4 linked regions of the Homo sapiens genome follow. The protein of the gene in region 2 purifies or fractionates together with the protein of the main gene of each other region. This does not show direct contact. Each region holds a gene or a part of one and is shown on either strand. Other genes may lie near its edges. The genes, in order: EEF1A2, EEF1G, EEF1A1 and MKKS.

What was found.
Region 1: the proteins of EEF1G (region 2) and EEF1A2 purify together in Homo sapiens (affinity purification with mass spectrometry; 6 studies listed by BioGRID and IntAct, with this or other methods). This does not show direct contact.
Region 3: the proteins of EEF1G (region 2) and EEF1A1 purify together in Homo sapiens (affinity purification with mass spectrometry; 7 studies listed by BioGRID and IntAct, with this or other methods). This does not show direct contact.
Region 4: the proteins of EEF1G (region 2) and MKKS purify together in Homo sapiens (affinity purification with mass spectrometry; 3 studies listed by BioGRID and IntAct, with this or other methods). This does not show direct contact.

What each region holds. Positions count from the first base shown.
Region 1 is NC_000020.11:63,496,054-63,503,192, forward strand, and holds the start of EEF1A2 (elongation factor 1-alpha 2), read right to left. Parts: upstream 3,031-7,139; 5' UTR 3,005-3,030; intron 2,571-3,004; exon of another isoform or gene 2,229-2,570; intron 1,782-2,228; 5' UTR 1,711-1,781; coding exon 1,567-1,710; intron 1-1,566. UniProt on the Homo sapiens protein: Translation elongation factor that catalyzes the GTP-dependent binding of aminoacyl-tRNA (aa-tRNA) to the A-site of ribosomes during the elongation phase of protein synthesis.
Region 2 is NC_000011.10:62,563,892-62,570,927, forward strand, and holds part of EEF1G (elongation factor 1-gamma), read right to left. Parts: intron 3,638-7,036; coding exon 3,508-3,637; intron 3,181-3,507; exon of another isoform or gene 3,120-3,180; coding exon 2,915-3,119; intron 1-2,914. UniProt on the Homo sapiens protein: Probably plays a role in anchoring the complex to other cellular components.
Region 3 is NC_000006.12:73,518,021-73,524,875, forward strand, and holds the start of EEF1A1 (elongation factor 1-alpha 1), read right to left. Parts: upstream 3,013-6,855; 5' UTR 2,980-3,012; intron 2,037-2,979; 5' UTR 2,007-2,036; coding exon 1,863-2,006; intron 1,497-1,862; coding exon 1,317-1,496; intron 1,209-1,316; coding exon 912-1,208; intron 829-911; coding exon 678-828; intron 591-677; coding exon 334-590; intron 245-333; coding exon 10-244; intron 1-9. UniProt on the Homo sapiens protein: Translation elongation factor that catalyzes the GTP-dependent binding of aminoacyl-tRNA (aa-tRNA) to the A-site of ribosomes during the elongation phase of protein synthesis.
Region 4 is NC_000020.11:10,400,479-10,403,228, reverse strand, and holds the end of MKKS (molecular chaperone MKKS), read left to right. Parts: 3' UTR 1-2,220; downstream 2,221-2,750. UniProt on the Homo sapiens protein: Probable molecular chaperone that assists the folding of proteins upon ATP hydrolysis. Plays a role in the assembly of BBSome, a complex involved in ciliogenesis regulating transports vesicles to the cilia.

The sequences.
Region 1 (7,139 bases), on a different chromosome or scaffold from region 2:
ACGGCTGAGGGCGGGACCCGGGACCCAGGAGTCCCTGGTGGTGCGAGCTGCTTGTTACAGCAGAGTGGCCGCGAGAGGCGGGAGATGGGCTCCAGCACCCCCTTGCTCTCCGTCGGGGTCCTGGGACGCCGGCCCCCTCCGTCGGGACCCCACACCCAGACCCTGCCCCCCAGGGCCGGCCTCCGCACCTGCTCCGAAATGGGCGCGGCTACGCAGGTCCACCAGCAGGTGGCGCAAGGGCCTGGGAGTCGCTCGCTCTACGAGCGAAGCCGCCAGATGGGATAAACCCCTCCCGGGCGAGGGCTCCCCTTTATCTGAAGCTGCGGACGCCCCCAGATCCCTTCCTCAACCAGAGGCCAATAATACCACCGTGTTTGGGGCTGTCAGATAAATAACCCTCTGTGTGTGTGTGTTTTTTTAAGGTAAGGAGAAAGGAAAACTGAATGAGGTCAGGAGGAGGGCCTGGCCACGCAGCTCCTTCCCGCTGCTCCAGCCTCCCCATCCCTCTGAGGCTTCTCCTCCCCTTCCTCGCTCTGCCGGACACGGGAAGCTGGGGGGCCTCGGCCAGTGAGACCCCCACAGAAGGGGACGGGCTTCAGTCAGGGCAGCAGCGGCGGTCACTACCCAGCTGGGCAGAACTCCTCGCCAGGGCCTCGCACAGACAGGACTCTGCCCTCCAGGAGGCTGCCCAGTCTGGAGCAGACCCAGATGGGACCCAGCTGGGGCCTGAAACAGCGGCCCTCTGAAACCCCCGCCTCCTCCTGACAAGGCCAGGTAAAGGGTGATGCAGCCCAAACTCAGGGGTGCAGCTCAGAGCACCCCCAACCCCGCCAGGGCAGAGGCTCAGCCCAGGACAGCGAGTGCCCCCACCTTGGGCCCTGGCCTCCGCCCTCATCATCCAGGTGAGAGCTCCCACAGGCCCTCCCAGGAGTGGGCTTCTCCCCAGAGTCCTGGGTGGGGGATGGGGATCAGAGAGCAGACCCCGTCTCATGACCGCTCCCCACCACCGTCTCAGCCACCAAAGAGAAATCGCTTCAAAAGGTCAGCTAGGAGGTCACCTCATCCAGGACCCCCACCCCAGGGCTGCCCTGGACAGCAGCCCTCCACAGCCCAGCACAAGAAAATGGAGCAGACGGGCCGGCTGCCCATCAATCAGCTATTAATAGTAGCGTGTGCCCTGGCAGGGCCCTAGGACAAGTGAGGGCAGTACCATCTCCAGCCCCAGCCTTGGCCCTGGGGGGAAGGGGGTAAGGCTCCAGCGCCCTCCAGCCCCAGCTCAACATGGCAGAGTTCCAGAGCCTTCTGCAGACCCTCCCAGGTCACCTCCCTCACCACAGGGCAAGTCCGGCAGCTCGATGGCCACCCCTCCCCCACCAAGCTCCCCCTAAGAGAGAGGCTGCCCCACCAGACCCTCTGAGGCCTGAGTGCCCCACAGCGGGGGTCCCTCCTGCCCTGGAGGAGGTCACCTGAGCCCCATGCCCTGGGGCTGGGAGATGCCAAGCCTGGCCACCACGGGAGTTGGGGGTTCCTTCTCAGGGGGCCAAGACCATAGCCTGGGGAGCTCACCTCAGCCGCCTCCTTCTCGAACTTCTCAATGGTCCTTTTGTCAATACCTCCGCATTTGTAGATGAGGTGGCCCGTGGTGGTGGACTTTCCGGAGTCCACGTGGCCGATGACCACGATGTTGATGTGGGTCTTCTCCTTGCCCATTTTGCTGGGAGTGTGAGGGGCTGGCGGGACCCGGGGTGCTCTGGCTCAGGGCGAGGGGGGCTGCAGTGATTCTGTGGGGCCAGTGGTGGTGGGGAGACCGGTGATGGGGAGCCCCAGGGGGAGACACCAGCAGAGACTGTCCTGGCACAGGCTGGACAGGCATCCCTGCCCACAAACCAAGCCCCCATGTTTGGTGGGGAGGGAAGGGCCCCCACCCACAGCTGGGCCTGGCCAGGGCAAGCAGAGGCTGTGCACTGCCCCCACCCCACACTTGAGCCCAAACAGCCCCATCTGCTGTAAATAACTGGGCGTTGGAGCCCGCGGGCTGCTCCTTGGGAAGGGGTTAGCCACCATTTGGAGAGACCACGCAGCGCCAGGCTGGGTACGTCCGTGACCAGCAGAGCCGGGTGATGAGTCACCTGCCCAGCGCTCCAGGGCCCTGTCCTGCACGCGCACTCCCCTCCCCGGCGGCAGGGCCAGGGACACGGCGCCCCACCCCCACCCGCTGCCACCGGGGAGAGATGGCCACTGCTCCCCACTCCCCTCCTCAGGCAGGGACGGCGCCATCTTCCCCTCATCCCTGCCCGGCAGGCTGGGCCAGAGCCCCGACGGAGATGCGCTGCCCAGATTAGGAACCCAGAATAGCTCTAGGCACCCCCCTCCCGGACTCTCACAGGGACAGACAGCGGCCGGGAGGTGGGGGTCCCTGTTCCAGCCTGAGGAAGGAGGACCCGGCCCTGCCGAGCCCAGCAAGTGCCAGGTGGAGATGCCCTCGGCCCCGTGGGGGTATAGGGGGCACCCTCCCTCCCCCCCTCCCTGTGACTCAGGACCCTGGGTCACAGCCCTGTCCCATCACAGAGGTCAGTGGAGAAACCCACGCTGCTCCTCGCGGACAGGTGGCTGGGGGAGGGAAAGAGGACAGAAGCCACCCTGGGGTGGGAACACGGGTGGGGGTGGGGAGGCCAGGGCCCCCAGATCTCACCACCTCCCTCAGCGTCCTCTGGCCCAGCGCCCCGAAGCCCGACCCCCATCAGCCCCCGGCCCGCAGGGTCCCCGCGGCCCCAAGGTCACGGCTACGGGGCGATCGCCGCCCAGGACCCGGCCCCGCCGCCCCGCGCCGCCCCCCACCCCGGGCCCAGCCCGGCCGACGCGGGGACCCCCGGAAGCCGGACTCCGGGCGCGCGCGGGGGCGGGTGCGGGGCCCGGCCACCCTCTGCCCCCCAGGACCGGCCCCGGGGGTCCCTCTTCGGAAGACGGGGGCGGGGGCGGAGGCCCGGGGGCCGAGCGTCCTTACCCGGAGCCGAGGTCTCAGCCAGAGGGACTGGCGGCGCCGGCGCCGGCGGTTTTATCTCCGGGAGGGGGTCCACCTATTGACGGTGGCGGCGCAGTGCACCGCGCCCTGCAGCACGCCAATGCGGAACCGCGCGGGAGGGGGCGGGGCGCGGACGCGCGCGGGCGGGCGCCACGGGGACGCGAGGCGATGCGGGAGGCGCGGGCTGCAAAGACGGACGCGGGAGGCGGGGGAGAAACGCGCCGCGGGCGGGGGCGGGGCGGGGGGCAGGGCAGGGAGGCGGCGGGAGGGAGGGACCGGGACGGAGACGGCGCGGGGAGAGCGCGGCGGGCCCGGGAGACGGGGCGAGAGCCGGCTCAGGGCAGGAACACGCTTGAGCCGCGAAAAGCGGTCCCCGGGGACAGGGCAGACGCCGAGGACCGGAGCCGGCAGGCGGGGGAGGGGAGCAGGTGGGCTGCAGCCTGGGAGACGAGCCTGGGTCTACCGGCCCCTCCCCGGCCCTGCTCATGGGGGACGCCCCAGAACCAACGAAGCCCGGCTCTGAGGGGCTCTCCCTAATGAGGCCCGGGGGTGCAGGCCTCAGGGTGGAAATCTGCTGGTTTCCAGTCCCTGTCCTCACGTGCCTGCCCTCCTGGGCGCACCATGACAGGCCCCGAGGATCCAGCGCAGAACCACCCTCCCCCTGAGAGGCTGGTCTCCCACGGTGCAGGGAACGCCGGAAGCCCGCTCCCAGACCCACTGACATCTTCCAGGGACCCTCCCCTCCGGGTGCGCCGACCTCCGGCTGCTGCTGGGAAACAGCGCCAGCCAAGGGCGAGTCAGATCCAGACAGACCCAGGCCCCCCCGCCCAGCGCCCCACCCCGCTGCACCTCAGCGCCTTGTAGCTGATGCTCATATGGGGTCAGGATGCCAAGCCAAAGACCGGGCCACGCTCTGTAGGAAGTGGGGAGTCCCTGAGGTCCTGGCACACGCGGGTAATGACCAACGTGGGTTGTGAGGAAGGGGATGTGGCAGCCATGTGTTGTGTGAAGACCAAGGTTAGGGGCTTTCTCCAGACCCCAAGATCCTGTCGTCTCACCCAGGTATTCAGGTCTTCCCTCCCACGCTGCCCCCCCACCCCCACGCACTCGGATCTTCCTGCCAGCGGGGTCTCGGGAGGTGTGTGCTGAGTGGGGGCAGAGCCCTGGCACCTGTCCTCTCAGCCCTGAGTTCCCACTGGGTGTTGACATGGAGGCCCCGGGTCGGGCCCAGCAGCTGCGACTGGGCAAATCCATGGGGATCCCCAGCGACTGGACCCCTACCTGGCCTGCTGGCAGGTGTGAGGAGGAAGGAAAGGTGGGGGCCCAGGGTCGGGGCCAAACAGTTCTCCCCAGCCTGTGGAGAGGGCCTCTCAGGAGGACCCTGGTCTGTGGCTGCGTCTGCCCCATAGGAGTCCAGGGACTTGGGCTCCTGGGCCACAGGCAGGAGAGGAGGCAGGGAGGGCCTGCTAGGTGCCCCGGCACTTCCGAGTGCTGCCGATGCCGTCAAACAGGAGCCAGGAATAAAAATAACCGCCTGGCAAGAAAGCAAGGCCCGCCCCACCCCACCCAGCTGGTCTCTATATTTAACGCCTCCCCTGCAGCCTGAAGGTTAGGCAGGGATTTGGAAGTGGGCTTGCTGCAGGTGCTCGAGTGGCCCAGGCCGGGGTCCCGGGGATGCCCACCCCACTCCCCCAAGGGATCACCAGGACTCTGGGCTACCTTTTCCAGACACCCCTTCCCCCTCGGCTCCCGGCTCACCCATAGCAGTGCCAGGGGCTCACATGTGCCGTGGGGCCTTGCCACCCACAGGAGTGGCCCCTGAGAGTGGAATGTGGCAACCTCCCCAAAGCACCTGTGTGCTGACTCTGGGCAAGGGTGTCGGTGGCTGCTCCAAAGGGTCTCCCAGGCGCCAGGACACGTTTGGTCCACGGTGTGGCCCCTCGGGGTCCTGGGAGCCACCGACTCAGTTCCGCAGACACTTGGAACACACAGCTAACGGGGCTGCGGTCACAAGGCTAAACACTAACACACTGATGGTTCCGAGCCACCGCGGAGACTGAACAGGACTGAATGGCTACTAACTACGGAATGCTAACTGCTGAATAACGGCAGTGGCCTGACCACGTCCCCAAAGTGCACGAGTTGTAACTTAATCCCCAATGCAACAGTGTTGGGGGCTGGCGCTTTCGGGAAGGAGTCTGGGTCATAAAGGGTTTGCCCTTCCGAATGGATTTGTGCCCTATAAACAGGACTCATGGCAGTGGGTTCTCTCTTGCTCTTCCGCCTTCTCCCATGTGAGGACACAGCAAGAAGGCCCTACCAGATGGCAGCACCTTGATCCTGGACTTCCTGGCCTCCAGACTGAGAAATAAACTTCTGTTTACTTATAATAATTTATAAATTTATAAAGCAAACTTTATAAATGTTTAAATTTAAGTAATGTATAATTACCCAGTCTCAGGTATTCTGTCATAGCACAACAAGCAGGCAAAACACTTGTCAATGGCCGGGTAGCACCAAATGACTTCAAGTACCAAGCATCCTAATTAGTCACAGCCAAGTCGCCCAGCTGTGTGAGTTCACAGTGTGGGGGACGGGGGACAGGGGGCCGTGCACGTGCACAGTGTGCGGGGATGGGGGCTGCGGGGACAGAGGCTACAAGGTAGGCCCCACAAGGCTGGCTGGAGGACCTTGAGAACCTGTGAGGCAACTGGGCACAGAAAGGCCAAGATTCCTGTCCAAGGACACGCAGCAAGTAAGGGGGCCTGTGGCCTGTGCTTTCCCTGCCCTCCCCCAGGTCAGGACTTGGGCCCCTCTTCTTGCATCTGAGTCCCTGGTCACAGTGCCGTCCTCACCAACAACCTGGGGGGGGTGGGGGGAGGGGAAATGGCGAGTCAAGAGGGCACCAGCCAATCAGGGCTTCCCTGGGGGCAGGCCCCGCCCCTCCTCGACCCCTCCCAGAGCCCCCAGGCCCCGCCCCTCCTTGCCGCCTCCCAGAGCCCCCAGGACCCATCCCTGAGCTGTTTGGGGAGACACAGGCAACCCCTTCTTTGGCTGGCTAGGGTTTCACGAGCCTCGGGAAAGAAGATGCAGCTAAAATTAACCGCTATCAAGCTGTCAGCCCTGGAAATAAACCTGCCTCCCATTGGCTGCCGGTGACGTCACTGCTGGGTTAATAATAGCCGCCGAGTGCCTAACGAACCACCTGTGCATGGGGCACAGCCAGGCCATCACCCCGGGGCCACCGTCGCAGGCAGGTGGAGGCTGGCAGCCCAGAGGCAGACAGGGGCTTGGAGGCAGGGTGGGGAGCAAGGCCAAGGCCGCTCTCTGGCCCCCAGTGTCACAGGATGACCTCAGCCCTGGCCTGGCCCCAGAGCAGGTGTGGATTCATTTTCCGGTCACGGAGCATCTCGTCTGCTGGCCCACCTGGGCCCCCTGGACGGCCACCAGGACAAGGCCCACCCCCGCGGCCATGCCTTGGGGCTGGCTCCCAGGGGACTGAGCATGCCCTTGAGGCAGCGAATTAAACAGTCTCCATGGCAGCAGAGGAGCTCCTGCCTCTGGAGCCTCCCTTAGAGGAGCAGCTCATGTCCCCCCAGATCAGAGAAGCTGGGGCTGGGCTGGCAGCGGGCAAACATGCCTGCAGGTCAGGCCACAGACCAGGGCCAGCCACGGCCCCGACAGCCCACCCTCCAACCCGGTATCTGGGTGTGCCTGAGGCAGACCTGAGTCTACCAGGGAGGCCCAGGAGGGATGCAGCCCCTCCGCCAGGGGGAAGGGCGGCCTGGCCTGCCACCCCGACCTGCAGGCCCCAGCAGGGAGCGTTGCCATGGTGAGAGGCAGCAGCAGCAGGATGCCCTCCCTCCAGGCCCTGCTGCCCGGGAGCCCAGCACCCACCCTGGTGGGGAGCAGACAGCACGTGCTCCTGCCGCAAGCAGCACTTTCTGGGCTTCTGGGCTTCCAGCTGCAGTCCCCGCTAGCCCCTCCCGGCCCCTGGCCATTACAGCCCATTGCAGGCTGGGAGGCTAAACAGGAGGCCGGGGTCACCGACCAGGGTGGGGTCACCTCTTGGACCCAAGAAGGGCAGCCCCTGGTGCCAGCACAGGGGCGCTGTGCC
Region 2 (7,036 bases):
CAACCACACCAAAACTGGGGCTGGGAATTTTTTCACACCCTCCTGAACTGTTCAAGCTATTTGTTTTGAGACAGGGTCTTGCTCAGTCACCCAAGTGCAGGGGCACGATCATGGCTCACTGCAGCCTCAACCTGCTGGACTCAAGTGACCCTCTCACCTCAGCCTGCCAAGTAGTATGAGCCACTGCAGTTGACCTAGCTGGGTCTTAAAAGAACTAGAATTAAAATCTGGACATTAATAGTCTTGGTCTTTTAGGATATCACTTTTATGACATTAAAAATGTTGGGGGAGCCAGGGGCGGTGGCTCACGCCTGTAATCCCAGCATTTTGGGAGGCCAAGGCAGGCGGATTGCCTGAGGTCAGGAGTTTGAGACCAGCCTGACCAACATGGTGAAACCCCATCTCTACTAAAAATACAAAAATTAGCCAGGCATGGTGGCACGCACCTGCAATCCCCAGCTACTCGGGAGGCTGAGGCAGGAGAATTGCTTCAACCCAGGAGGCGGAGACTGCAGTAAGCCGAGATCACACCACTGCACTTCAACCTGGGCAACAGAGTGAGACTCTGTCTCACAAAAAAAAAAAAAAAGGCCGGGAGCAGTGGCTCATATCTGTAATCCCAGCACTTTGGGAGGCGGAGACGGGCGGATCACGAGGTCAGGAGTTCGAGACCAGCCTGCCCAGCATGGTGAAACCCTGTCTCTGCTAAAAATACAAAAAATTAGCTGGGCATGGTGGTGCGTGCCTGTAGTCCCAGCTACTCAAGAGGCTGAAGCAGAACTGCTTGAACCCGGCAGGTGGAGGTTGCAGTGAGCCAAGATTGCACCACTACATCCCAGCCTGGGCGACAGAGCCAGACTCCATCTCAAAAAAAAAAAAAAAAAAAAAAAAGGGGGCCAGGCACGGTAGCTCACACCTGTAATCCCACCACTTTGAGAGGCCAAGGTGGGCGGATCACGAGGTCAAGAGATTGAGACCATCCTAGCTAACACGGTGAAACTCCGTCTCTACTAAAAATACAAAAAATTTGCCAGCCGTGGTGTCACGCGCCTGTCATTGTAGTCCCAGCTACTCGGGAGGCTGAGGCAGGAGAATCGCTTGAACTGGGGAGGCGGAGGTTGCAGTGAGCTGAGATCACACCACTGCACTCCAGCCTGGGTGACAGAGTGAGACTCTGTCTCCAAACAAACAAACCAAAAAAAAACAAAAAACACAAAAAGGAGCCAGGTACAGTGGCTCACACCTGTAATTCCAGCACTTTGAGAGGCCAAGGATCACTTGAGCCCAGGAGTTTGTGACCAGCCTGGGCAACATAGTGAGACCTAGTCTCTACAAATAATAAAAAATTAGCTGGGTGTGGTGGTGTGTGCCTTTGTCCCAGCTACTCCAGAGGCTGAGGTGGGAGGATCGCTTGAGTACAGGAGGTCAAGACTGCAGTGAGCCGTGATCACGCTACTGCACTCCAGATTGGACAACAAAGTAAAACCCTGTTTCCAAAAAAAAAAACCTTGGGGAAAGCATTTCTGGCAGCCCTGTAGGGCATCATGGTAACCCAATAAATAGACATTAATAAACATTCCCAAAACCATGTTAAGAAAATGTAAAGTTTATTAAATAAAGATTTTAAGTTTACTACTGCCTCATTTATTTCCTGCCCAGAGTACTGACCTACTATATGTGAAAATCTCTAGCTAATAATTAACAACGTCTGAGTTACAACACAATATGTAATTTGGGTTAATTATCATGACCTATTTACACACACCAAAAATCCTGCTCACTCTTGACCTGCACCTGTGCTAAATTCAAGGCAAATCACTAGTTCAAAAAATACATCTTTAAAGAGTGCCTGTGTCTGGATGGAGCCTTCCTGGTCTTGTACAAAATACCCGGGAGTAAGAACTTTCAGCTATACCCCAAGTTGCTCCCATCTATTAGTGCAATGCTTGTAATTCACAATTCTATGCACAGCTACTGTGTCCCTACCAGTGGGTGCTCCTTTAGGCTGGTTCACCCGGTATCCAAGCCATTACAAGATGGGAGAGGGTGAAATGTAAACCCTAGCAGACCAAGCAGTAAAAAGATGAACGGCTTTGGAAATGACAGGGTGAGTGGGAGGAAAAAGTACAGAGAAAGAGGAGTTCCAAAGCAAAGTGACCACAGAATATATATTTCTCAAACTGCTTGAACTCCCAATAAAATGACTTGGAGCAGTGATGGAAGAAAGACTCCATCCCAGAGAACTGGGCAAGCACTCAGCGTCCTACATTTTTCATGCCAAAAATCTCGTTTTTACTATATTATTTCTTCCAAGAAGCCCTACCTTTAACTGAAAAAGGGATACAGAGGACACCTACTTTCTTCTACTTGGGGACTTTACTCGGTTGTGGAACAATGAACTAGACAGACACTACTTAGCTATGATCTTCATCCTTTTTCTTAGTGAGCAATTTTTGTACAGTCTGATTCAGCAAAACAGAAAACAAAACAATTCAAAGGACCCTGCTCTGGCATCCACTATCTCCGCACAGCCGGGCGCGTGGCGCACCGCAAGGCTCTCTGCACTTTCTTCCTCCCCACGCCTCTCCCTGTATTTGTTCTCAGAGCTCTCAAATGGTCAAATGAGCTTGCTCAAAACCAACTTACCACTATATCAAAATCTGTTCCTGTCTTTGTTGGAATAGGAGTTCAATCTTCCCCAGTACTGGCTGTACTTGAAACTTGCTCTCCACAATCAAAATTTGCCCAATTCCTGATTATCAGCCAGAAAGCTGCTTTATTTGCAACTAAAATATACCTTTAACTTTATATGGACAACCTAAAATTCTGGCTCTAGCTGTGTGTGAGGGGGGACATACAGAGGTGAGAACAGGCCTTCTTTGGTCCCACACCCTCCACCCTCCAATATCCTTACCTCTTGGGCAGGTGAGCGAAGGGGTCCTTGGCCTTGGGCTCAGCAGCCAGCGCCTGCTCACATTCATCCATCTCCTCCTCAGGAGCAGGGGCAGCCGCCTTTTTCTCCTCCTTCCGCTCAGCCTGGGGCTTCTGCTTCTCTTCCCGTGAACCCTTCTCTTTCCGTGGTGTGTCCTTTTTAGGTTGGGTCTCTGCAAACTTTTTAGCTGGTGCAGAGGAAGGCAGGAAAGTGAACGAATGTTCTGCCTCTTTCCACACCCCTCCAAAACCACACAGAGCAAGCAAGGTAACAGAGGAAACTGACGAATGGGACAAGTAAGGAACTTAGGCCCCAGACTGCTCATCAGTTCACTGTGTGTCCTCCAGCAACAACACACTCAGCAACAAATACTTTATATCGCAAATCTATATAGTAATACAAATTAGTCAGGGTATGAGTGTACACGAAACTGCACATAATATTAGCTACCACATTGACACCCTACATTCTGCAGGTCCCCATAACCCAAAAGCAAGACAGGAAATCAAGGGGTTGATGCAGAGCAAACCAGACCCTGATCCTGGCCATATGCCTCCCAGTCTCCTCAGACTCACCATCAAACTGGGCCATCTTCTCACACAGTTTCACTTCGCCCAAGACAGCCCGGAACTGGGGCTGGTTAATGCAGGTGAGGAACCAGCGGTTGGTATTGGGAAAGGCCTGGCGGAAAGAAGGCTCTAGAACCTGCCAGGACATAAGGGTGTAAACAAAGTCAGTGGAAAGGCCCTGAAGAGTTCTGTTCACAGCAAGAGTCCTTGCTCTACCTAAGTCCCAGTGCTCACCTTCTTTTCAAACCCTATAGACAATAGCTTCATACAACATCATCCTTCCCTGGATTACTTCCCATTTCTTCATTTTTTTCAATTTTTTTTTTTTTTGAGACAGAGTCTCACTCTATCGCTCAGGCTGGGGTGCAATGGCGTGATCTCAGCTCACTGCAGCCTCCATCTCCTGGGTTCAAGTGATTCTCGTGCCTCAGCCTCCCATGCCTTAGCCTTCTGAGTAGCTGGGACTACAGGTGCCTGCCACCACACCCAGCTAATTTTTGTACTTTTAGTAGAGATGGGGTTTCGCCCTGTTGGCCAGGCTGTTCTCGAACTCTGACCTCAAGTGATCCGCCCACCTCGGCCTCCCAAACTGCTGGGATCTCCGAGGCGGGCGGATCACGAGGTCAGGAGATCGAGACCATCCTGGCTAACACGGTGAACCCCCATCTCTCCTAAAAATAAAAAAATTAGCTGGGCGTGATGGCGGGCAGCTGTAGTCCCAGCTACTCGGGACGCTAAGGCAGGAGAATGGCGTGAACCCGGGAGGCGGAGCTTGCAGTGAGCGGAGATCGCGGCACTGCATTCCAGCCTGGGTGACAGAGTGACTCTGTCTCAAAAAAAAAAAAATTAGCTGGGCGTGGTGGCACGTGCCTGTAGTCCCAGCTACTCCAGAGGCTGAGGCAGGAGACTCACTTAAACCCAGGAGGTGGAGGTTGCAGTGAACCGAGATCACGCCACTGCACTCCAGCTTGGGTGACAGAGTGAGACTCTGTCTCAAAAAAAAAAAAAAAAAAAAAAAATTTTAATAGAGATGGGGTCTCACTATGTTGCCCAGGCTTATCTTGAACTCGCATGCTCAAGCAATCCTCCTGCCCTGGCCTCCTAAAGTGCTGGGATTACCCGTGAGCCACCACACCTGGCCTCCATTTCTTTTTCTAATCTTTTTTTTCAGTGTAGTCCAGTTTAATGGATGGATGCTTGGGTCCATCCTCCATTTAGGAGTAGGAGTAATAATTGTCTTGCTCCTTTACAAAACTATTTCAGATCTACTGTTTCCAATCTTTTAAATTTCAAACGTCGGCCAGGAGCGGTGGCTCACGCCTATAATCCCAGCACTTTGGGAGGCCGAGGCGGGCAGATAACCTGAGGTCAGGAGTTCGAGACCAGCCTGGCAAACATGGTGAAACCCCGCCTCTCCTAAAAATACAAAAATCAGCCAGGCATGGTTGCACATGCCCGTAATCCCAGCTACTCAGGAGGCTGAGGCAAGAGAATCACTTGAACCCGGGAGGCAGAAGTTGCAGTGAGCCGAGATCGCGCCATCGCACTCCAGCCTGGGGGACAAGAGCGAGACTTCGTCTCAAAAAAAAAAAAAGATTGAGACCCACAGAGGGCTATCGAGGACTTTTTTGCCAAATAAAATCTAAACACTATAGGTATTTACTATCTATATTGGCCATACTATACACACACGCACACACACACACACACCCCCCACACCCACCCATCCATCAAACTTCAGAAAGTAAAGAACATTCAAAGAAAATATTCAAACGCATTTAGAATAATGGACAGTCCTGGCTGGGTGTGGTGGCTCACCCCCGCAATCCCAGCACTTGGGAGGCCGAGGCGGGTGGATCACCTGAGGTCCTCAGGAGATCAAGACCAGTCTGACCAACATGGCAAAACCCCATCTCTGCTAAAAATACAAAATTAGACGGGTTTGGTGGCGCATGCCTGTAATCCCAGCTACTTGGGAGGCTGAGGCAGGAGAATCGCTTGAACCTGGGAGGTGGAGGTTGCAATGAGCCAAGATCGTGCCACTGCACTCCAGCCTGGGTGACAGAGCAAGACTCTGTCAAAATAAATACATAAATAAATAAATAATGGACAGTCCTTCAAATTAAACTTAGTGTCTGGTGTATTAAGCATGGTCAAAGAAAAATAAGAATAAACAGCTTCAGGTAGAACTGTTGTCAGTTTTCAGTTTGCAAAGCTTCAGGTAGAACTGTTGTCATTTTTTAGTTTGCAAAGACCAGAAGAGGAAAAAAAATCTTGTCATGGAAACAGAACACAGCAGTCAGAGTGCTGGTTCCACAGTACTTGGGTTCAAATTCTACTCTACCACTTAGTAGATTCACTCACTAAGATGATCCCCATGAGGCCCCTGGCACAGGGTCTGGCATGCAGTAAGTGTTTTTTCTTTTGCTATGATCACATTACTATTCTGGACCAGCATCAGTCCAAGAGCTTTTATTTGGAAACCAGTGACTTGTCATTCTTTTTTGACCCAATAACCTTGACAGTGATTATTACTACCCTGATTTTATAGATTGCAAAGAGTAAAAAACAGGACTAAAGGAATTCACCCGCATATAACCCCTTACCTACATTGGTAAACAATGAAGCCAAGGCTTGAACCTGTATCTGTCTCCAAAAGAGCTTAAAGAGCTTTTTTTTTTTTTTTGAGATGGAGTCTCGCTCTTGTCCCCCAGGCTGGAGCACAGTAGCTGGATCTTGGCTCACTGCTACCTCCACCTCCTGGGTTCAAGCCATTCTCCTGCCTCAGCCTCCCAAGTAGCTGGGATTACAGGCTCCTACCACCACGCCCGGCTAATTTTCGTATTTTTAATAGAGACAGGGTTTCGCCATGCTGGCCAGGATGGTCTCGAACTCCTGACCTCAAGTGATCCACCCGCCTAGGCCTCCCAAAGTGCTGGGATTATAGGTGTTAGACACAGTGCCTGGCCTGCCTCCAAAAAGATCTTAATGCTGAAGCTACCATCATCACCTCTGTCTTCACAACTAAGAATAACCAATCTTCCCAGGAAATATGGCAACAAACTAAACATCTTAGCTGCCAAACAGAAACTAAAGGCAAGACATTACCCAGCTTCTTAAGAGAATGGAAAGCAAGTGATGGTACTCAGTCCTGGGATTCCTGGCTGTTTTTTGTTTGTTTTGACACGAAGTCTCACTCTCACCCAGGCTGGAGTGCAGTGGGGCGATCGCTGCTCACTGCAACCTCCACCTCCCAGATTCAAGTGATTCTTGTGCCTCAGCCTCCCAAGTAGCTGGGGCTATAGGTGTGCGCCACCACACCTGGCTAATTTTTTGTATTTTTAGTAGAGACAGGGTTTTACCATGTTGGCCAGGCTGGTCTCAAACTCCTGACCTCAGGTGATCTGCCTACCTCGGCCCCCCAGTGTGCTCGGATTACAGGCATGAGCCACTGCACCCACCTCTAGCTGTTTTCCAAGTCCTCAGCAGAATACAGGGTAACCTAGATACCTCGTCACTTTGTTTCTAATCCCCA
Region 3 (6,855 bases), on a different chromosome or scaffold from region 2:
CATCCTTACCCAAAGGTGGATAGTCTGAGAAGCTCTCAACACACATGGGCTTGCCAGGAACCATATCAACAATGGCAGCATCACCAGACTTCAAGAATTTAGGGCCATCTTCCAGCTTTTTACCAGAACGGCGATCAATCTTTTCCTTCAGCTCAGCAAACTTGCATGCAATGTGAGCCGTGTGGCAATCCAATACAGGGGCATAGCCGGCGCTTATTTGGCCTGGATGGTTCAGGATAATCACCTTGGAAAAAAGATTTGCATTCAGTGCAAATCCAAAGTCTCAAATGACTTTAGCCTCTGCAATAAGTTAATGTTACTTTAAATTGTTACCTGAGCAGTGAAGCCAGCTGCTTCCATTGGTGGGTCATTTTTGCTGTCACCAGCAACGTTGCCACGACGAACATCCTTGACAGACACATTCTTGACATTGAAGCCCACATTGTCCCCAGGAAGAGCTTCACTCAAAGCTTCATGGTGCATTTCGACAGATTTTACTTCCGTTGTAACGTTGACTGGAGCAAAGGTGACCACCATACCGGGTTTGAGAACACCAGTCTCCACTCGGCCAACAGGAACAGTACCAATACCTAAAAATATTTACAGCATACTAAATACCTATGAAGGCAGACAGTACTCTATCAACTCAAATTCAACTTTGTTTACAGCCAACTTACCACCAATTTTGTAGACATCCTGGAGAGGCAGGCGCAAGGGCTTGTCAGTTGGACGAGTTGGTGGTAGGATGCAGTCCAGAGCCTCAAGCAGCGTGGTTCCACTGGCATTGCCATCCTTACGGGTGACTTTCCATCCCTTGAACCAAGGCATCTGAAACACAAGCATGCCAATTTGTGTAAGCATGAAATCGCCATTCCCAGAGCTTTTTAACAATGGTCTTGAAAGCCACTTACGTTAGCACTTGGCTCCAGCATGTTGTCACCATTCCAACCAGAAATTGGCACAAATGCTACTGTGTCGGGGTTGTAGCCAATTTTCTTAATGTAAGTGCTGACTTCCTTAACAATTTCCTCATATCTCTTCTGGCTGTAGGGTGGCTCAGTGGAATCCATTTTGTTAACACCGACAATTAGTTGTTTCACACCCAGTGTGTAAGCCAGAAGGGCATGCTCTCGGGTCTGCCCATTCTTGGAGATACCAGCTTCAAATTCACCAACACCAGCAGCAACAATCAGGACAGCACAGTCAGCCTTTAAAGAAAGCAAAGACATATCCCTGTCAACTCTCCAAATGACAAAACCAGTGTACAAAGCAAGCCTTTTGGGATAAAGAAACCTAGAATTATTAATCCCACCAACCTGAGATGTCCCTGTAATCATGTTTTTGATAAAGTCTCTGTGTCCTGGGGCATCAATGATAGTCACATAGTACTTGCTGGTCTCAAATTTCCACAAGGAGATATCAATGGTGATACCACGTTCACGCTCAGCTTTCAGTTTATCCAAGACCCAGGCATACTTGAAGGAGCCCTTTCCCATCTGTAAGGATTAAGAGTCGTTACTTGGTTACTAAAACACAAACTCCAGCTTCAATTTCCTTGTCCCCAGCCCTTAATTGGCAGTTTCCACTTTACAACTCCAAGTCCAAAGTGATTTTAGTCACTTTGGGTTACAGAAGCAACCAAAAATCAAACTTTTATAAGTCGGATCTTAACTATTAACATCCAAATCTACTCACTAGCAATACGATTACAGAAGTCACCAAAAGCAAAATTATTTCATAAGTAAGGTCTTAACTATTAGCATTCAGATCTAAACCACTCACTAGTTCTGGGGAAATCACCTAATGATTCTGCTGGTAAAACTCATTTTAGTTGATCTTTCCCTTTCTGGTATTAAACATACCTCAGCAGCCTCCTTCTCAAATTTTTCAATGGTTCTTTTGTCGATGCCACCGCATTTATAGATCAGATGGCCAGTAGTGGTGGACTTGCCCGAATCTACGTGTCCAATGACGACAATGTTGATATGAGTCTTTTCCTTTCCCATTTTGGCTTTTAGGGGTAGTTTTCACGACACCTGAAATGGAAGAAAAAAACTTTGAACCACTGTCTGAGGCTTGAGAATGAACCAAGATCCAAACTCAAAAAGGGCAAATTCCAAGGAGAATTACATCAAGTGCCAAGCTGGCCTAACTTCAGTCTCCACCCACTCAGTGTGGGGAAACTCCATCGCATAAAACCCCTCCCCCCAACCTAAAGACGACGTACTCCAAAAGCTCGAGAACTAATCGAGGTGCCTGGACGGCGCCCGGTACTCCGTGGAGTCACATGAAGCGACGGCTGAGGACGGAAAGGCCCTTTTCCTTTGTGTGGGTGACTCACCCGCCCGCTCTCCCGAGCGCCGCGTCCTCCATTTTGAGCTCCCTGCAGCAGGGCCGGGAAGCGGCCATCTTTCCGCTCACGCAACTGGTGCCGACCGGGCCAGCCTTGCCGCCCAGGGCGGGGCGATACACGGCGGCGCGAGGCCAGGCACCAGAGCAGGCCGGCCAGCTTGAGACTACCCCCGTCCGATTCTCGGTGGCCGCGCTCGCAGGCCCCGCCTCGCCGAACATGTGCGCTGGGACGCACGGGCCCCGTCGCCGCCCGCGGCCCCAAAAACCGAAATACCAGTGTGCAGATCTTGGCCCGCATTTACAAGACTATCTTGCCAGAAAAAAAGCGTCGCAGCAGGTCATCAAAAATTTTAAATGGCTAGAGACTTATCGAAAGCAGCGAGACAGGCGCGAAGGTGCCACCAGATTCGCACGCGGCGGCCCCAGCGCCCAAGCCAGGCCTCAACTCAAGCACGAGGCGAAGGGGCTCCTTAAGCGCAAGGCCTCGAACTCTCCCACCCACTTCCAACCCGAAGCTCGGGATCAAGAATCACGTACTGCAGCCAGGGGCGTGGAAGTAATTCAAGGCACGCAAGGGCCATAACCCGTAAAGAGGCCAGGCCCGCGGGAACCACACACGGCACTTACCTGTGTTCTGGCGGCAAACCCGTTGCGAAAAAGAACGTTCACGGCGACTACTGCACTTATATACGGTTCTCCCCCACCCTCGGGAAAAAGGCGGAGCCAGTACACGACATCACTTTCCCAGTTTACCCCGCGCCACCTTCTCTAGGCACCGGTTCAATTGCCGACCCCTCCCCCCAACTTCTCGGGGACTGTGGGCGATGTGCGCTCTGCCCACTGACGGGCACCGGAGCCTCACGCATGCTCTTCTCCACCTCAGTGATGACGAGAGCGGGCGGGTGAGGGGGCGGGAACGCAGCGATCTCTGGGTTCTACGTTAGTGGGAGTTTAACGACGGTCCCTGGGATTCCCCAAGGCAGGGGCGAGTCCTTTTGTATGAATTACTCTCAGCTCCGGTCGGGGCGGGTTGGGGGGGGTGGTGACGGGGAGGCCGCCTGGAAGGGACGTGCAGAATCTTCCCTCTACCATTGCTGGCTTAGCTCCAAAGGTTGTATTGAGATTAGGGTGTACCTTCGCCTCTCAATCAGCCTCCCGTCCTCAGCCTTGCCATCTCGCTAGTCCGGGACAAATCCCTAGAGCGTCTTCCTCTGCGGGTCTCAGCCCAGCCCGGGGTTGGCTCCTCCTCCGCCCCGGCTTCCGCGCCCCTCCCGTGTGGCAAGGAGTACCAGGCCCGGGGACCCCGAGGGGCTTGGGGCGAAGGGTCGGGACTGGGGGCCTCCTTAACGGCTCACGGACTTGCGAGAGGTTCGGCTCGATGGCCGTGAAAGCGACGAATCCGCTCCTGTGCTGGCCTCTTGGCTCCTTCCATTCAAAGCCAGCTGCTTTTATGGAAGCCCGTAACACGTCATCTCCCCCTGGTACTCCAGATGTCCAGGCTTTCAGTTTAGAATAGACTCAGTCCTACAGTTAGCTTTAGATCTAATTCTAGTTTTGTTACGCCAAAAAGTTCCTGCGAGTGTGTGTGTGTGCCTCATGGTACTTTTTAAATTAAAAGGTGTACAGTTATTTGATTGCAAACATAAGGAACCTAAAATGCTTTCAGATTTTCCACATGATCTCATGTAGAGGCTAAGATCTACAGCATCAGCAAGTTTATCCACCCAGTTTCCTAACCCCAACACTTGCTATGAAGTCACAGCTTCTCCTATTTAAATAAGTGCCTATTATATTTAAATAAGTGCTGTCGTTTTCTGTCATCCTATCGATTGTAACTGCATTTTAGCATAAATCTAGGGCAAGATTGGATGAGCTTGGCCTTTTTGGATGGCTATCAAGGCAGGCCTTGGGAAATGCTCCTCTGAGGAAAGAAGAACGTTTATTTTTAATGAGCTAATTACTAGATCATTATGTTTCTTCTTCCAGCTGTAGAATATCATTGCCCAGCTTCTCGAACAAACTTATTTATTAACAAGTATTTGAGAACCTACTATGTGGCCAACGCTAAGTACTGTGGAGTTCCTTCTGGAGAGGAAACCACAATCAAATTGGAAGAGGAAAACAAGTTGGGAAGCAGTTGAAGGCAAACGCTATGGTGCTTTCTTGGTTTCTGTATCTTTGTAGTGTAGTTTTTCTAGTCCTTTCAGTTTTCACAGTCCACTTTTTTTTCTTTCTTTCTTTTTTTTTTTTTTTTTTGAGACGGAGTTCTACTCTGTTGCCCAGGCTGGAGTGCAGTGGCGCGATCTCGGCTCACTGCAAGCTCTGCCTCCCGAGTTCAAGCGATTCCTCCTGCCTCAGCCTCCCAAGTAGCTGGGACTACAAGCGCGCCCCACAAATTTTTGTATTTTTAGAAGAGACGGGGGTTTCACCATGTTGGCCAGGCTGGTCTCGAACTGCTGACCTCAAGTGATCCACCCGGCTCGGTCTCCCAAAGTGCTGGGATTACAGGCGTGAGCCACGGTGCCCGGCCACAGTCAAAGTTTTTCCTCAAGCCCCTGTGATTGCGGATAATAGTAAACGCTTTATAAATACCTTACACAGAATGTTTTTTAAAATATCACGCAAGGAATGACAAAATTACATGAATCCTTGATTTATACCTAAGTAACATATTGTGCAACACAGACTGGGTGTTCTGAATGTTGCGATAGTGGCCGAGACTTTCATTAGGTGAAGGGAGATCTCAATTCTCGCGTTTAAGAACCAACACTGGACCGGGCGCGGTGGCTCACGCCTATAATACCAGCACCTTGGGAGGCCGAGGCGGACGTATAATTTGAGGCCAGGAGTTCGAGACCAGCCTGGCCAACATGGTGAAACCCTGTCTACTGAAAATACAAAATTAGCCGGGCGTGGTGGCGCATGCCTGTAATCCCAGCTACTTGGGAGGCTGAGGCAGGAGAATCGCTTGAGCCCGGGAAGCGGAGGTTGCAGTGAGTCAAGATCACGCAATTGCACTCCAGCCTGGGCGACCGAGTGAGACCTTGTCTCAAAACAAAACAAAAAACCAATACCTTTGAGCCCATCGGAGCCATATTATTGTGCGTTAGGGGTAGTCACTGGCCACGAGCATTTTCTCAGGGCAGAGATCACATTTCTGCTCTCAGTGGGGCCGGGGTGGGCCGGAAGCCGGAGAGGGACTGGAACGCCGGTCCGGGGAAGCCCCGCGCGCACCGGGGCGCACCCTGCTTCCTAGGGAGGGAGGCTGGGGCGGCAAGGCGGGCGCGGGTGGTCCTTGCCCCGCGCCAGCTCGCCAGGCCACGTCGCTGGCGTTTTTCCAGCGCTGGGTCACCTGCGGGCCGGCGGGTTCCCGCGGCGAACAGCTGGGTGGTATGGATACGCCGCTCGAGCCTCCGCAGCGTCAGGTCGCCAGGGTCCGCCCTGCCACTCGCCCCACCTTGAGGTAACTTTTCTTCCGCCTTCTGACTGCGGAAGGAAGGGCCTGGGAGGAAGCAGAAAACCTCACGTGGCTCGGGGTGAGGGTCGGTTTTTGTCACCGTGAGCTGGCCTCTAAAAGACTTTTTAAGTCCCAAGTCTTCTTTTTCTTCTTATTTTAAATCCCTTTTTCCCCAGACCCTATGTTTTCAACATAATCATAACGGATTCCCCGCACCCCTACGCCTTTACAGAGATCCAGTATGCTTTTTACTGCCTTAAATGTTAAAGCGGTAACAGTAACGATGTTGAGGCTCGTAAATGTGTTTTGGGGTCATAATCTAAGGTAGTATTTGCTGAAGATTTTTCTTAAACTTGCTCATAACCATTTAGAGTGACAAACTTAAAATACATTGTAAGTAAAAATCAACATGACCCCTTTTAGGAAGAAAAACAAAGATTTCAGTTATTTACATAGGAATAAGGCAAACAAGAATAGTTCTTTGAGGTACTTAATTGTGATTCACCAAGCTTTCAGTATAGTCTGACCACTCTGCTATTAGTCTAATTTAAAGCAGCCTTAAATAGTTACATTTTACCATGGCTTGCCACGTGAAAATGATTTTTAAATCTTTTCATCTGCTGTAGCTACCTCTGAAGAAAAGATGATGGCCCGGTGCGGTGGCTCACGCCTGTAATCCCAGCACTTTGGGAGGCCGAGTCAGGCGGATCACCTGAGGTAAGAGTTCGAGACCAGCCTGGCCAACATGGTGAGACTCCCGTCTCTACTAAAGATATAAAAATTAGCCAGGCTTGGTGGTGTGCACCTATAATCACAGCTACTTGGGAGGCTGAGGCAGGAGAATTGCTTGAACCCGGGAGGAGGAGGTTGCAGTGAGCAGAAATCGTGCCACTGCACTCCAGCCTGGGTAACAAAGTGAGACTGCATCTCAGAAAAAACTATATATATATATATATATATTTTTTTTTTTAAAGGGGTATTTTAGAATATGATTAAGCCAAGGAACTATTTGGACTGAGAATCCAATTTTTTTTTTTTTTTTTTTT
Region 4 (2,750 bases), on a different chromosome or scaffold from region 2:
GAGTTTGTCTCTTGATGCCTTCTCTCTCAATGGAAGCCAGCTGTCATGTTGGGAACTGCCCCCTGGGGAGGCCCACATAGCAAGGGTTGAGGGAGGCTTCTAGCCAACAGCTCAAAAGGAACTGAATCGTACCAATAACCACAAGAGTGAATTTGGAAGCAGGTTCTCCCCAGTGGAACCTTGAGTTGAGTATAGCCCTACCACTGGAGCCACACGAGAGACCCTGATGCAAAAAAGCCAGCTAAGCTACTCCCAGGTTGGTTCCTAACCCACAAAATCTGTGAGATAATAAATGTTGTTTTAAGTCAAATTTGGGATGTACTTTCTTATACAGCAATAGCTATCTAATAAAGGCAGGAGGAAAAGCTTATTTGTAATAAATTATTTACTGAAAACTTGGTCACATAAATGGAAAAAAGCATTCTTGATGCCATGCCTTTGCATTTTTATCATCACCCCAACCTAAAAGAAGGGTTCTTTATCACATGTGTTTACAATGTGTCACATAGGAGTTGGGTATTGTCCTGGTTCTCTTTGCCCTTATCCTGCATTTTTTCAAGTTCCTCCAAGAAGGGGTGACACAGCGAACCTCTCCAATTGATCTTATAGATTAGGGGCTTCTACTTTTCACGATAGCCACTTTTTAAATTCTATCATTTTTAGCTTTGCCATACAATTTGATTACATTCCTTAGTGAAACATCAATGCTCTTATTTTGAATATATCACAAATTCGTTAAAATATATTTACAAATACCTCTATGTTTCCTAAAGTTATAATAATCCCTAGCAGAAAACACTGGAAATAGAAAAAAAGAGAAAAAAAACCTTCCTCTATAGTTCAAGAAAATTAGCGTTCAAACTTAGATGATAAAACATGAAATGAAAATTCTTGATGAAAATAATTTTAGAGGAGTTCCTTTTGGCAGAAATAAATGATAAGTAAAAATAGCAACTAAGGTAAGCCTCAGGCAGTGTTTTGTGACTTAAAGTAAGATTGAGGTCTGAATATTGCATTATGAAGTACCTCAGGAGAGAGAATGGGAAACCGTGATCGCTGTGGAAAAGGAAAGGGAGAGTGTGAAGAAGAAAATGAAGTCGGTGACAGCTGCTCAATAATTTCGTGGGACTCTCAGGACATGTAACATTAAACGTTATTCAACCATAGGAGTCCAACAGGATTATCATCTTATTAATCAAAAGGCATTAGGATTTTAGCAGCAAGGAAGAAAGTGGAGAGCTACAGCAAATAAAGGAAACTTTTAATCAAATACTTATTTGGTCTTATAGATATCCTACCCTTTAATTCTTCCATTTGTACCATATTAGAGAGTCTTTATATGTTAGACATTGTAAGTCAACTGTTAGACTGAAGCACTTTATGTAAGTGAAGTATTTTACACAAGATATTTAAACTATATCACATTAATATCTTTTATTATAGGTATCCTTGAACTCATTTGGTTTGTATTATCAAAGCTACTTAGGCATTTACATTGTAGACAAGAAATTTGAAGTAACCATAAATCAGCCATTGTACTATGTATTTTCATATTGTTGTTCATATTGTTGAGCAGTTCTTTGGATAACTTTAAAATAAAATAATGTTGTTTACCATCACATACATTATGCAGGTTATTTAAAATTATCATGTAAAAAATCAATGCAGGCCTTGACAAAACATACAATTAGTTAGGTTATTCCTTCCTGATAATCTTTGGGGAATAGTCAAAGAGACTAAACATCTCCTACAAGGCCCTGTTTCAGCTGTCTAAATAAAGCTATCTCTTAATCTGAAGGAAAAGTCAATTTTGAATATCTGATATCTTTATAATTTTTTTCATGTAGCTAAGTGCTTCCATTTAGTAACTATTGTATCCCATAATGGAAGTTTTTGCCAATCATCTACAGAATTTGAATTTAGATGCACCTAAACCCAATGTTAGCCTACTTTTGGATTATAAGTAGATTTATATGCTGCTTTACTAAGAATATAGTAATATTCATGAAAGAGAATGCAATCCCTGAAAACTATTCCTAAATGTAAGTGAAGCTGTTTGTTGGAGAGACGATTAGTCTTGGCGCACTAAAATCCATAGAATACTATATTACCTGTAATGAAGTGTGAATTTAGAGGGAAATAAAACAGCTTGACAATCTCCTATTAAAAATTCTCTTTGAGAAAATACTTATAATAAACATCTTATTTTAGCCATCTTGATTTTGTTTCTAGTATTGTGGTTTGATTTTGGGAAGTATTAATTGAGCCCTTTCTGTTTGCAGATAGGATAGTCAAGCGTATTTGGCGGTGAGAAGAGGAAAAAACAACACAGAAATTTGTTCACAGTCTCTGGCCTCAACAAGTTGATCATCTAGCCAGGGAGAATTTTTTTTTTTTTTTTTTTTTTTTTTTTTTGAGATGGTGTTTCGCTCTTGTTGCACAGGCTGGAGTGCAATGGCGCGATCTCAGCTCACTGCAACCTCCGCCTCCTGGGTTCAAGGATTCTCCTGCCTCCGCCTCCCGAGTAGCTGGGATTACAGGCATGTGCCACCATGCCCGGCTAATTTTGTATTTTTAGTAGAGATGGAGTTTCTCCATGTTGGTCAGGCTGATCTCGAACTCCTGACCTCATGTGATCTGCCCGCCTTGGCTTCCCAAAGTGCTGGGATTATAGGTGTGAGCCACCGCGCCTGGCCGAGATTTTTTTTTTTAATTATTAATTTTATAAGTTAAACATGTTGTAATAGAAA